Linked DNA regions of Homo sapiens: regions 1 and 3 are each linked to region 2. Evidence: fine-mapped expression QTL. A gene starts in region 2. Each other region holds a variant in brackets. All regions are shown on one strand. Distances are between the middles of the regions. Region 1 overlaps SPECC1 (sperm antigen with calponin homology and coiled-coil domains 1). Region 2 holds the start of SPECC1 (sperm antigen with calponin homology and coiled-coil domains 1). Region 3 has its middle 7.2 kb from the start of AKAP10.

Evidence for each region. PIP is the estimated chance that this variant, and not a neighbour inherited with it, causes the effect.
Region 1: its variant is the best candidate, but not a certain one, in a credible set for the expression of SPECC1 in tibial artery (GTEx, PIP 0.50).
Region 3: its variant is the best candidate, but not a certain one, in a credible set for the expression of SPECC1 in whole blood (TOPMed, PIP 0.66).

Annotation. Positions count from the first base shown.
Region 1 is chr17:20,090,226-20,092,982 of GRCh38, reverse strand. The region is part of intron 1 of SPECC1 (sperm antigen with calponin homology and coiled-coil domains 1); the gene reads right to left. Among named protein-coding and RNA genes, the nearest start is that of SPECC1, 82 kb to the right of the region's middle. The variant A/G (reference allele first, on the strand shown) is at 1,623.
Region 2 is chr17:20,008,326-20,011,082 of GRCh38, reverse strand. It overlaps SPECC1 (sperm antigen with calponin homology and coiled-coil domains 1), which reads right to left and starts at 1,724. Exons shown (of 15, transcript NM_001243439.2): 1 at 1,659-1,724. It overlaps SPECC1-DT (SPECC1 divergent transcript), which reads left to right and starts at 1,823. Exons shown (of 1, transcript NR_186461.1): 1 at 1,823-2,757. RefSeq lists silencers at 1,053-1,232, 1,253-1,922 and an enhancer at 2,355-2,757.
Region 3 is chr17:19,983,627-19,986,383 of GRCh38, reverse strand. No RefSeq gene overlaps it. Among named protein-coding and RNA genes, the nearest start is that of AKAP10, 7.2 kb to the right of the region's middle. The variant C/T (reference allele first, on the strand shown) is at 1,196.

The DNA.
Region 1 (2,757 bases), 82 kb before region 2:
TTAAATTGGTTCCAAAACCTACACACCTAAACACCAGGGACGGATGGCCTCTCTGAATAATCTTTGCTCCCTGGAGAGCACCAAGGCTATAGATCAAATGCACCTGGTCCAAATTCAGCTCCACTGTTGACATTGTGAACTCAGCCATGCTTTCTGAACATGATTCTCTACATCTTCACCCAATAAGATGGAGTTATCAGTGCCAACTTCATAAAACTGTAAAGATGAAAGGAGAACAAGTCCATCAGGTGCCAGGCACACAGAAGGCTGTTGACAACTATGAGCCGCCCTCTCGACAAAAACTGTTGATGGTGTTCAACGGAGCGCTGCTCTGCCTTCTGACTCAGCAGCACACAGTGATGGGTCAATTAAATGTGTGTTCAGGGCAGGAGGCAGACAGACATATCAGATCCAAGGAACACACTCTTCTACACAGAGAAGACTATTTTCACTTGGAAATGTGAAAGAGAGAAAGAAGCGAGGGAAACACACCTGCAGGGAAGACACTTCACAGCAATTAAAATTGCCCAGGGCTTAACAAATCCTGGCTGCTGAAAGATAAACACAGGTGGGAATGCTAGCTGAGTAATCGTTTTCTTATGGATATGAATTAGCCATACAAAATAAACAGGCTCCAGCCAAGTACAAGACAGTGAAAAGAAGGTTTCTATTATTAATCTCATGATTTCCTAAAATCCTCATGAACACCACAAAGGATCACATCGATCAAGGAATTACAGTTAAATCTAGGACCCCACACCCATGGTGGGGTGGGGGATGTCGTTCCAGGGGTGTTTTCTTTAAATTTGTCAAACATTTTATTTTCTTACCAAGTTTCTCTCCTCTCCAGAATAGTGTAGGACTTAAACTGCAACTCTTAAATTTCACAGTGTAAAGTAGAAGAGAAAGGAGGGAGGGAGAAAAGGAGGAGAGAGGGAACCCCTATTTAAGGAATACAATTAGGCGCTGGGCAACAGTTAAAGTCAGAGTCCACACGTCTCCTGCTCCCTGAAAACACGCTGTTCCGCCACTAAATTGCTGCCTTCGGAGCCTGCGTTGGAGAGGTTATCTCGGGCCTCAGCTTCATTATCCTTTTAAGGCAAGAAATAGAAAGGCAACTGGGAAACCATTCTGGACAATCAGAAAATAATGACGAGTCTCCAGGAGTGGGAGAGGGCACTCAGGGCTCGGCTACAAGCACAATAAGCACTGGGAAGCGGAAGAGGCCAAACCATTCAAGTCTGAGAACCAACAAAATAAGAATGTGCACATAGCTCAATTGCCAGGGGACTCAGCAGGAAATAGAACGTAAGTGAACCACATGTTGAAAATACTGAGCTGGAGCTTTTTGGAACATGGGTCGAATTTGCTCCTGACCTCTTCTACAGTAGTAGTTCTAAGCCCAATGGGCACGTGGCAATGTGCAGAGGCATTTACGGTGTCACAACTTGGGGTGCTACTGGACAGAGCCCAGAGATGCTGCTAGACATCGGTAACCCAAAGGGGAGCCCTACAACAAGGAAGCATCTGGCCTACAATGTCAGCAGTGCCACGGTGGAGAGACTTCCAGAGGAAGAATGAGAGCCCTGGGACACTGGCTCCTAGACCAGCCGGCACATGAC[A/G]TATCTGCTTAGCCTCACCACCTAACATGGAAACATTAACACTGAAAATCTGGTTGGGGCGCAGCTGACGGAATCCCAGACTTCAGCAAATGGCCACAGGAAATGCTTCAAAGCTGATTATTTCCCACAGTCTTGAGATGAAAAATCATCCCAATAGCCTCAGATTCTTTCCCAGTAAATAAGGAAAAGAACAGATTTCCATACAGCATCAGAAGAAAAATTCCAAAGTAAAATTCATTGATCCCATCAGCAGAAGTCACTGGAAAAAAAGAAGTGATAAAAACAAAAACTAAATGGAAAAGAACATTTGTACATCGCTAACCACACCACCTCAAACCTGAAAACAAACTTTGATAGTGGAGTAAGAAACTATGGACTCCTGCCAGAAGGTGAAGACCCATAAAGAATAGGGTGTAATCTGGAGACCCATAAGGAATAGGGTATAATATGGAGACCCATAAGGAATAGGGTGTAATCTGGAATAAGAAACAGAGGCCGAGGCAAGTCCCAAATATGAAATGCAGACCCAAGAGAGAGGCTATAATCTGGCAGCTATATTGAGACCAAGAGCTCACAATCACTGGTCTGTGACGTCCTTCTGTCTCCAAAGCTGCCTCAAGCAACCAGCATCCCAAAGAGCTAAATGACCACTAATAAGTAGTTATTCCCTTACCTGTAACATGGCTTCCATCAAAGGATTAAAGTGAATGAGCCAAGGCAGTAGGAAAAGGAGATGGAAATAAAATAAGAGCCCTTTTTTTTTTTTTTTGGAATAGTGTAAAATGGTCTAGTGCAAAGTAAACAGAATAAAAACTACAGTATAGGAGGGAACCAGAGACTTTCATATCTATCTAGGCTGCAGCATCTTGAGCCATATTTATCAAGTCCTGGCTCCGGGCCTTTGCACATGCAACTGCCTCTGCCTGGGACGCCAGCTGGGGAACTGAGGTGAGCTGAGAAAGGAAGTGTTTACAAAGGTGTGGGCAGGGCTTGTAATGAAAGGGAGAAGCAAAACGGAAAGTGCAGCACCCCAGAGCTAGGAAACACCTCATACGCATCCTCTCCCTCCCTCCAACCTGACAGCCAGTGCTGCCCACAGGCTCAGGGAAGGCATGGGACACAGGTACAGTGTCTA
Region 2 (2,757 bases):
AGATACCAAAACCCTAAATAAGATGCTAGCTTATTGATGTGAACAATCCAAAAGTGCATTTTAAATTAGCCCAGGGTTTTAGAGAAAGAAAATCTAGCAATGTGACCACCACTTATGTTAACAATTTTAAGACGAAAATCTACATGATCATATCAATGCATGCTACACAAAAGCATTTGGGCAAAAAACCCAACACCCACCCTTGACTTTTTAAACTCTTAGTAATTAGGCATAAACAGAAATGTACTTAATGTGATAGAATACACTCGGTGAAGATACAGAGGGAATGCTCCCTAAAACCAAGCCCAAGACAAAGATTCCTATTTAACCTCAATAGTCAACACTGCAGCGAGAGTAATCTATGGAAGACAAGGAAAAAAGTAAAAACATGAGAGACATCTGTTGTTTAACAGACAATAAGATCACCTACTTGGAAGAGGCAAACGAATCAAGCGAAAAACTATTAAAACTGAGACAGGCTTTAGTATGGAGGCTCAGCTTCAGCTGTAGTTTGGGCTACCAAATTCAACTCGCTTGCTTGGAGAGTTAATCCTGCAAAGCTAATTTCTGTTGAGGTATTAGGATTGACAAGCCTGTGCTCCTCCCTCCTCCCCCATCTTCAACACTGAAATAACACGGTGTTTGGAACTGGATAACAGAATCTTCCAAAAACAAAAATTGTCCTGAAGGGCTGACTTGTGCCCTTACTCAAAAAACACTTTATCTGCTGCCTGCAGCTCCTACAGTTGCTGGTGGATAAGCCTGCCAACCAGCTCGGCGTAATTCTTCCTGCAGAGGGCAAGGAAGAGCACTTTCACAGGAAAATTTTTTTCCGAACTGTATGCCGCTTATTACATAAACTTACGTGCTGGCAAATGGAGCTCCAGCAAAATAAGATATTCAGAGTCAAACTTCCTTAGGAAAAAAAAAAAAAAAAAGCAAGCACATAACACTAATTTCCTTGCATGGGCACTGGGGAAGGAGGTCGTTACTTCCGCACGCCCGCAGGTCCGCACCACCGGGAAACCCACGGGCACCGCGCGCTGCCCCCGGGCCTTCCAGGTGCACTGCGCCGCGGCGCCCCAGCTGACCCGGGATGCGCAGCCCTAGCCCTTCCCCTGTCACCCCGGCCAGGAAGGGGCGGGAGCGCGGCGGACGCCGAGGGCGAAGGGCTTCTCGGTCCTCTGCACCACGCAGCACCCCCAAGGCACAACAGGGAGGGTGCGGGAGGCTCCCGAGACCCAGGAGCCGGGGCCGGGCGTGCCCGCGCACCTGTCCCACTGCGGCGAGGGCTGGGGTCGCCTCCAGGGCCGCAGCTGTCGGGAGCCACCTGGCTCTCAGTCCCGGGTCCCTGCGACAACCCTCGGGCCCGGAGGGGAGGAGGCGGCCACCTGCCGCTGCCACCTGCGGCACCGGTCCCACCGCTCCGGGCCGGGCAGGACAGGCCAGGACGTCCCTCCTGGGCTGGGGACAGGACACGCGACGAGGGGACCGGGGCCCCCGCGGCGAAGACGCAGCACGCCTTCCCAGAAAGGCAGTCCCGTGCCCCCACGACGGACTGCCGGACCCCCGCGCTCGCCCGCCCATCCCTTCAGACCACGCGGCTGAGGCGCAAAGAGCCGGCCGGCGGGCGGGCTGGCGGCGCGGCTAGTACTCACCGGCCCCGCTGGCTCAGCGCCGCCGCAACCCCCAGCGGCCACGGCTCCGGGCGCTCACTGATGCTCAGGAGAGGGACCCGCGCTCCGCCGGCGCCTCCAGCCATCGCCGCCAGGGGGCGAGCGCGAGCCGCGCGGGGCTCGCTGGGAGATGTAGTACCCGGACCGCCGCCTGCGCCGTCCTCCTTCAGCCGGCGGCCGGGGGCCCCCTCTCTCCCAGCTCTCAGTGTCTCATCTCCCTATCTGCTCATCCTCTGGTCGCACATAATCGATGTTTGGGCGTCCCAAGCCAGATGTGGACCCCATTTCCGCACTCTACACTGGAGGTTTTCTAAGGGTGGTGCCCGGACCAGCAGCTTCAGCCTCATCTGGGAACTTGAGAAAATGCAGATTCTCCGTCCCACCCAGCCTATTCGGTTTTTCCTGCACTAAAACCATGAAGGTGGGGCCCAGCAGTCCACATTCTCGCAAGCCCGTCAAGTGATTCTGAGGCGCCCTCCAGTTTGAGAGCTATGCTCACGGCCTCACCTCCGCCCCGCAAGGAGCCCGGTCTTGCCTGTGGCGCTAGCCGCACACGGACACCTCATCCTGCGGGGCCCGCCCCCCCGCTGCACCCTCACCGCCCAACGCCTCCTCCGGGATGCAGCGGAGGCGCCTGGAAGTCGGCAAGGTCAACATCCCCCTCAGCATCTTCCCTACCCTCACGGCTCCTCCTCCAGGGGTGCCTCATGGCCAGGGGTTAGAAAGAGCCACTGTGTTTCTTGACATGGAAGTGGCCTAAGACCTTAATGAAAACTGCAGGAGTGGAATGACAGAACCTTTGGTCATACTTGAGGGCGTGAAGCTCAAATGAGGAGGAAGGAAAGGATCCAGGGAGAATAACCAACCCTGGCAAGTTGTGGCGCCCAGGTAGAGGGGCGAGCCTAGGCTAGCGGTTCTCGACCAGGGCCGGTGTTGCCCCTCCTCGCCGCCCCGCGTACATTTGGGGAGGTCTGGAGACATTTTTGGTTGTCATGATGCGGGAGTTGCTACTGTTGCCTAAGTGGGTAGACACGAGGGTGCTCCTCAACATCCTACCTGAAGGACAGGACTGCCCCACAAG
Region 3 (2,757 bases), 25 kb after region 2:
TTTTACACTTACAGCACATCTTCGTTTGATTAGCCACATTTAAAATACTGAATAGCAACGTGTGGCTATTTAGTATTCACTAAAATCTTGGACAGTGCAAGTCTAAAGAATCCTTGATCCGTCCGGCATGGTGGCTCACGCCTTTAATCCCAGCACTTTGGGAGGCCAAGGTGGAAGGATCACTTAAGGTCAGGAGTTCGAGACCAGCCTGGCCAACATGGTGAAACCTCGTCTCTACTAATAATACAAAAAAAATTAGCCGGGCATGGTGGTGCATGCCTGTAATCCCAGGTACTTGGGAGGCTGAGGCAGGAGAATAGCTTGAATCCAGGAGGCGCTGCAGTGAGCCGAGATCATGCCATGCCACTACTGCACTCCAGCCTGGGCAACAGAGTGAGACTGTCTCAAAAAAAAAAAAAAAATTGTTGGGCGTGGTGGCTCACGCCTGTAATCCCAGCACTTTGGGAGGCTGAGGGGGGTGGATCACCTGGGTTCTGGAGTTCGAGACCAGCCTGGCCAACATGGTGAAACCCCATCTCTACTAAAAATACAAAAATTAGCTGGGCGTGGTGGTGGGCACCTGAAATCTCAGCTACTCAGGAGGCTGAGGCAGGAGAATTTCTTGAACCCAGGAGGCAGAGGTTGCAGTGAGCCAAGATCGCGCCTCTGCACTCCATCCTGGGTGGCAGAGCAAGACTATGTCTCAAAAAAAAAAAAAAAAATACTTGATTGTCTGGACATTCTGCAGAACATCATATGGAGACACTATGTTGACGACATCATGCTGATTGTAAGCAAGAAATGGCAAGTGTTCCAGAAACACAGTCAAGACACATACATGCCAGAAGGTGAGATATAAACTCTACTAAGATTCAGTGGCCTGCCACACTGGTGACATTTTTAAACCTGCTAGATGTTTGTGTAGAAAAGGATTTAACCTTGCCCAAAGAGGGGTCTGGCCTTTGTCCCCAGCTACTGGACATAATCTCTTTAAACTCTTGAAATATCATTCCTGATAGAAGTATTTTTGTTTTGACTAGGGGCCTTGGGCCAGCCAGATAGCAACAATGTGATCTGGGTTGGGGGCTTTGGATCAGGTGGCATCAGTGTGACCTCCTGAGTGGCTAGAGACTAGAATCAACCACATGGGCAGACAACCCAGCTTACATGATGGAATTCCAATAAAGACTTTGGA[C/T]ACAAGGGCTTGGGTAAGCTTTCCTGGTTGGCAATGCTCTATACTGGGAAACCCATTCTGACTCCATAGGGAGAGGACAACTGGATATTCTCATTTGGTACCTCCCTGGGCTTTGCCCTATGCATTTTTCCCTTGTCTGATTATTATTATTATTATGAGATGGAATCTCGCTCTGTCACCCAGGCTGGAGTGCAGTGGAATGATCTCAACTCACTGCAACCTCTGCCTCCCCGGTTCAAGCGATTTTCCTGTCTCGGCCTCCCGAGTAGCTGGGACTACAGATGCATACCACCACACCCGGCTAATTTTTTTGTATTTTTAGTAGAGACGGGGTTTCACGTTAGCCAGGATGGTCTCGATCTCCTGACCTCATGTTCCGCCTGCCTCGGCCTCTCAAAGTGCTAGGAATACATGTGTGAGCCACCGCGCCCAGCCCCCTTGGCTGATTATTAAAGTGTATCCTTGAGCTGTAGTAAATTATAACCGTGAATATAACAGCTTTTAGTGAGTTTTGTGAGCACTTCTAGCAAATTATCAAACCTAAGGATAGCCTTGGGGACCCCTGAACTTGCAGTTGGTGTCAGAAATAAGGGTGCTCATGTGTGTACCATGCCCTCTAATTTTGTAGTTAATTAACTTTCACAACTTTATTATTACCGCTTACACTCAATGTTTATTCACATTTATCCACATACCACTTATTCTAGTGCCTTGCATCAAAGACTTTCTATCTCATGTACTTTATTCTGCTTGAAGTAAATCCTTTAGGATATTCTTTTTTTTTTTTAAACTTTGCACATACATACTTTTATTTTTTATTTATTTTTAATTTTGTTATTTTTGTGGGTACGTAGTAGATATATGTATTTATGGAGTACATGAGATGTTTTGATACAGGCATGCAATGTGAAATAAGCACATCATGGAGAATGGGGTATCCATCCTCTCAAGCAATTTATCCTTCAAGTTACAAACAATCCAATTACACTCTTTAAGTTATTTTAAAATGTACATTTAATTTTGTATTGACTAGAGTCACTCTGTTGTGCTATCAAATATAATTTTTTTTTTTTTTGAGACAGAGTCTCACTCAGTGGCCCAGACTGAAAGTGCAGTGGCACAAGCTCGGCTCACTTCAATCTCTGCCTCCCTGGTTCAAGCGAATCTCCTGCCTCAGCCTCCCACATAGCTGGGATTACAGGCACACACCACCATGCCCAGCTAATTTTTATATTTTTTTAGTAGAGACGGGTTTTCGCCATGTTGGCCAGGCTGGTCTTGAACTCCTGGCCTCAAATGATCTGACCACCTCAGCCTCCCAAAGTGCTAGGATTACAGGCATGAGCCACCACACCTGGCCAAAATAGAATATTCTTTAGTGAGGTCTGCTGGTGACAATTTTTTTCTTTTTTTTGAGACTGAGTCTCGCTGTTGTCAGCTTGGGCTGGAGTGCAATAGCACGATCTCAGCTCACTGCAACCTCCACCTCCCGGATTCCAGCAATTCTCCTGCCTCAGCCTCCCAAGTAGCTGAGAGATTACAGGCACCCACCACCACACGCG